2 separate regions of the Homo sapiens genome follow, and region 1 is linked to region 2. Evidence: fine-mapped expression QTL. Tissue or cell type: whole blood. Region 2 holds a variant in brackets; the other region holds the start of a gene. All regions are shown on one strand. Distances are from middle to middle.

Region 1 (2,641 bases), 34 kb after region 2:
CTCTTGGCCTACAGTGGGAATGATTAAATAGAGATACTGGCTAAAGTTGATAAAACAGAAGTGGAAAAAGTAGGGAAGGGGCTTTTACTTTCCATACTTTTCTTAAAAGGGTATTTGTTTTTAATACCCTTCTCCGTTGTTTTATGCTAACTCCAACATGCCTTACTAATTAAAAAATTAAAAATTATAAAATTAAACAACCACCTTCAAAGGCTCCCTTGAGTCCAAAAGGTGTTTTGTACATATGGTTCCCATGCTCTTCCACTACCACCCGCCATCCCTCCCACTACTTCACAGACCACCCCTCCACCACATAGGCAGAGTTAAGCTGCTCCTCCAGTCTTGCACTCTCCCCATCTGCAGACTTTTGCACTCCCCTACAGAGCGCTTCCGGCACTCTTGCATTATTTACTGTCTGTCTCTGCCCCTAGGCTGGCAGCAACTGGGAGTAGGAACTTTGGAGCCAATGCCTGGCACAGAGTAACTGCTCAACCAATTCTGATTAATCAACCTCCGGGGTCTACAAAAGGGGGAGTCCCCCGGCGTCCCCCGGTTCAGGCTCCCTCGCCCCGCCGGCCCCGGCCTCCTTACACTCCGAGGTGCGTGTGCGACACGATCTTTCCGCAGGCAATGGTTGCCGGGCCTGGCTCGAAGCCGAGCGCCTGCAGATACATCCAGAGATGCTCCTTCTCGAAAGCGGTGACCGAGGCCGAGCTCATCCTCGCGGTAGGCACGGTGGCTGCAAAGAAAGAAAGCGCAAGCCCAGGGGACTCGGAGGGCCCTCAAGATCCCTCCCTACGGTCAGCCTGAGGTCGCGGTGGTCCTTCCATTGCCAACGCCTGCTCCTTTCACGCCCAGAGCGATTTCGCCTCAAAGGGCCTCACAACCTCCGGGAAATTGAGTTTCTAACGGTATAGTGCGGCCACCACTGCCTCAGCGAAGCCACCACAAACCGAGACTCCCGCCCTTAAGGAAGAGCAGTGTGCGCCGGCGCCGCCAGGCGTCCGAGGGAGGAGGGACTTCCGGCAAAGACTATATCTCCCGCCATGCAATGCGTCCTTCTCTCCTCCCTTCCGGCCATGCCCAGCCAAGAAACTGCAAGACCCACCGGGCATTGCGCGGCCAGCGACTTGCTCTGCGCTTGCTTAACCGCTGTCGTGCCCAGATCCTCGGGCCTTCGGGTTTCTGATTCTTGGTTAGTGGGGTCCATTTGCTTGTGTATCCTAGTTGTTACGTCACAAAAAAGCCATAAATGGAGCACTATGCCTCGGTGTAGAGTTAAAGCATTGGTTCCATCCTCCGCTATGCTCACTGTGACTCTAATCAAGTCACGTAATCTCTGAGCCTCATTTCTGTCGTTAGCGAAATCTATGTCCTCAAATGCCGGATGTTCCTTTTCCTGCTTTAAATGAAATCTGGCTCTATACTCCCCTGCAGTCCTGCAGTCTTTTTTTTTTTTTTTTTTTTTTTTGAGACGGGGTTTCGCTCTTGTTGCTCAAGTTGGGGTGCAGTGACGCGATTTCGGCTCACTGCAACCTCCGCCTCCCGGGTTCAAGCGATTCTCCTGCCTCAGCCTCCCGAGTAGCTGGGATTAACAGGTGTCCGCCACCACGCCCGGCTAATTTTTTTGTATTTTTAATGGAGACGGGGTTTCACCATGTTGGCTGGCTGGTCTCGAACTCCTGACCTCAGGTTATCTGCCGGTCTTGGCCTCCCAAAGTGCTGGGATTACAGGCGTGAGCCACTGCGCCTGGCCGCCTGCAGTCCTCTTAATTTTTTTTTTTTTTTTTTTTTTTTTTTTGAGACGGAGTCTAGCTCTGTCTCCCAGGCTGGAGTGCAGTGGCGCAATCTCGGCTCACTGCAAGCTCCGCCTCCCAGGTTCACGCCATTCTCCTGCCTCAGCCTCCCGAGTAGCTGGGACTACAGGCTCCCACCACCACGCCGGGCTAATTTTTTGTATTTTTAGTAGAGACGGGGTTTCACCCTGTTAGCCAGGATGGTCTCGATCTCCTGACCTCGTGATCCGCCCTCCTCGGCCTCCCGAAGTGCTGGGATTATAGGCGTGAGCCACCGCACCCGGCCCGTCGTCTTAATTGACAGCTGTTGCCTACCACAAACCCCACTGACAACAGGGCCTGGAAGTGGATTGGGTAACCTGCTTTTAAGTCTCATTGCTACCTCTGGCAATGATTGTCTCCTGCCTCACTAAAATCACCTTAATAAAAGAGAGAGAGGCGGGGCACAGTGGCTCACGCCTATAATCCCAGCACTTTGGGAGGCCAAGGTGGGCGGATCACCTGAGGTGGGGAGTTCGAGACCAGCCTGACCAACATGTAGAAACCCCGTCTCTACTAAAAATACAAAATTAGCCGGGCGTGGTAGCGCATGCCTGTAATCCCAGCTCAGCTACTCGGGAGGCTGAGGCAGAAGAATCGCTTGAACCCGGGAGGCAGACGTTGCAGTGAGCCAAGATCCTTCCACTGCATTCCAGCCTGGGCGACAAAGTGAGACTCTGTCTCAAAAAAAAAAAAAAAAAAGAGGAGAGAGAGAGAGAGAAAGAAAGAAAAGCCACTAAGTTGCCCAGGCTGGGCTCGAACTCCTGGGCTCAAGCGACCTGCCCACCTTGACCTCCCAAGGAATG
Region 2 (2,500 bases):
ATCCAGATAGACTAAAATATGGTTCTTCCACAACTAGTCCTGACTGCCTGTGAACTAGATTACTGCAGAACCAATTACCAATAACTCAATTTTACAAAAAAAGTTTTAACTCTGGTTAGTGTTACAGCTTATTAACTTACTAAGATGGCATAGAATGATGAGTGCTTCATTTAAAATTTAGGATTTTCCTTTATAATTTTCCTAAGTATTTTATTTTCATCTGTCCCTCATCTACTTGGGGAAGTTGTAATGAAAGACACCTATTTAGGTTAAAAAACAATTAAAAAAAAAAAAACTAATAAAGGAAAGTTTCGTGTTTGATTGCTACTTAATAATGTTTAATTTCAATGAAGAACTAATATGTTCCCCAATCGGATTACATACATTTAGTTCACAGATTTTTTGCTCATATAATCTGTAATTAGTCCAAAATGGGATAATAGAGAAAAAAAAAGGCAATAAAGAAAATAGGAATATTACTGGAGGAAGTTAGAACAAAATCCAGTTTTTTCATATGTTAAATCTGGTGGTTATAGTAAATCAGAAGTTGTCCAATTTTTTTTTAAGCATGGAACTCTTCTTATCGAATAGTTTACCAAACACCACAATATATAACATATATAAAAGAGCAAGTTGCCCAAGGCTAAAGTGGGAAAAGGCTGGACCAGCCACGGGTTATGTTAGATACATCCACAGCACCAAATGGCACTATAGGATGTAGTCTGAAAACTATCTGGACAAGATGATCTCAAAGGCCCCCAAACACTTGAACTTAGTTTCAAAAAAGTTCACATACATAAAAAGGCAAAAACTCTCAAATTTGCATTAGATAATTTCCAAATAATCCCCATGAAACTCAATATTTAGATAAAGAATAGAAGAGGAAAAAATGCCCATGTATCATAAATGTTGGATCTTTTCTGAAAATGTGGGTCTATGGTAGAAAAATATTGTCCAGTTAAAAGGGCAAAATTGGCCGGGTGCGGTGGCTCACATCTGTAATCACAGCACTTTGGGAGGCCAAGGCGGGTAGATCACCTGAGATCAGGAGTTC[G/A]AGACCAGCCTGGCCAACATGGTGAAACCTCATCTCTACTAAAAATACAAAAATTACCCAAGTGTGGTGGCAGGCGCTTGTAATGCCAGCTACTTAGGAGGTAGCCTGAACCCAGGAGGGGAACTATTTGAACCCAGGAGGCGGGGATGTTGCAGTGAGCCAAAATCGTGCCATTGCACTCCAGCCTAGGAAACAAGAGCAAGACTCCATTTCAAAAAAAAACAAAAGGCAAAATTATGCACTATCCCAGAGTAAATAAGATTGGAAACTGGTTTAAGATGGGAATAAAATTAATATATAAAAAAATCAATATAAAAATCAAATTTGGGTCAGGCACAGGAGGTTATGACCATAATCCCAGCACTTTGGGAGGCCCCGGCAGGAGGATCACTTGAGGCCAAGAGTTAAAGACTAGCCTCTGCAACCCAGAAAGACCACACCTTTTGTTTTTCCTTTTAGTACAGACAGGGTCTTGCTATGCCTGTACTGGTCTAGAACTCCTGGGCTCAAGCGATCTTCCCACCTCAGCCTCCCAAAGTGCTAGGATTACAGGAGTGAGCCACTACATCCAGTGATTGGTGCGTTTTTACAATCCTCTTGTAATACAGAAAAGTTCTCCAACTCCCCAACAGACCCAGAAGTCCAGCTGGCTTCACCTCTCAGTTCCATCTCTATTTTTTATAAAATAAGAGTTTTTTAATGTTTAACAAAAGAAAATCAAATTTGTTTTACCTGTTGGCTAGATCATGTAGCGCTCCCAAGGTATCACTGTCTCCTCTGCAACCATTTTCTTGGTTATGTTGCTTATGTGCATCTAAAGAAATTTAAAAATTGGTTACTCTTTAATTATGTTTGTACATTCTAACATTCAAGGATTCCTTGAAATTCGAGAACAACTTGTAAACAGAAGAAAACAGAAAAACCAAAATATGAACACTAATAGGAAAACATAATTATTCAATTGATAAGTATAAAGTGATGAGCAGAAAAGTAATAGAGAACATCTAGCTTTTATAAAAGAAATGATGGCTAATACTAAAACAAGTTACTCAAAGACTAAGAATCCATAATTCCCCAGTGTTATATGCTTCATGTTTACATACACAGATCATGAGATTATCACAAAAGCCAGCAAGGCCAAAAAGTTACAGTCTTAGCATATTTCAGTGCACATTTATGGTATCAGTCAACCTATATATTTATTCTTCAACCTATGACTGAATAACTACATGCTACTACCATACCAACAATGGAAGAAAGAAATGAAAGATGGAAATGTTGCCTCCGAAGAGTCAGTCTAGGAAAGGATAGTGATGAGTCAAGTGTTATGTTATACTTCTACAGTATTATGACAGAAGTATATACAGAATTTAAGGAGGCAGAGGACAGACATCCAGCCCAGACTGCAGAGTGGGAAGAAGGCATGAAGGTACTGAGAGAACGAGG

Evidence for each region. PIP is the estimated chance that this variant, and not a neighbour inherited with it, causes the effect.
Region 1: HAUS6 starts here. The variant in region 2 is fine-mapped to the expression of HAUS6 in whole blood (TOPMed, PIP above 0.99). The same link has a PIP of 0.9 or more in T cells, lymphoblastoid cells and thyroid.

Annotation. Positions count from the first base shown.
Region 1 is chr9:19,101,933-19,104,573 of GRCh38, forward strand. HAUS6 (HAUS augmin like complex subunit 6) reads right to left here and starts at 972. Exons shown (of 17, transcript NM_017645.5): 1 at 592-972. The coding sequence starts at 719. RefSeq lists an enhancer at 651-1,214.
Region 2 is chr9:19,068,433-19,070,932 of GRCh38, forward strand. It overlaps HAUS6 (HAUS augmin like complex subunit 6), which reads right to left. Exons shown (of 17, transcript NM_017645.5): 12 at 1,787-1,868. Among named protein-coding and RNA genes, the nearest start is that of RRAGA, 20 kb to the left of the region's middle. The variant G/A (reference allele first, on the strand shown) is at 1,055.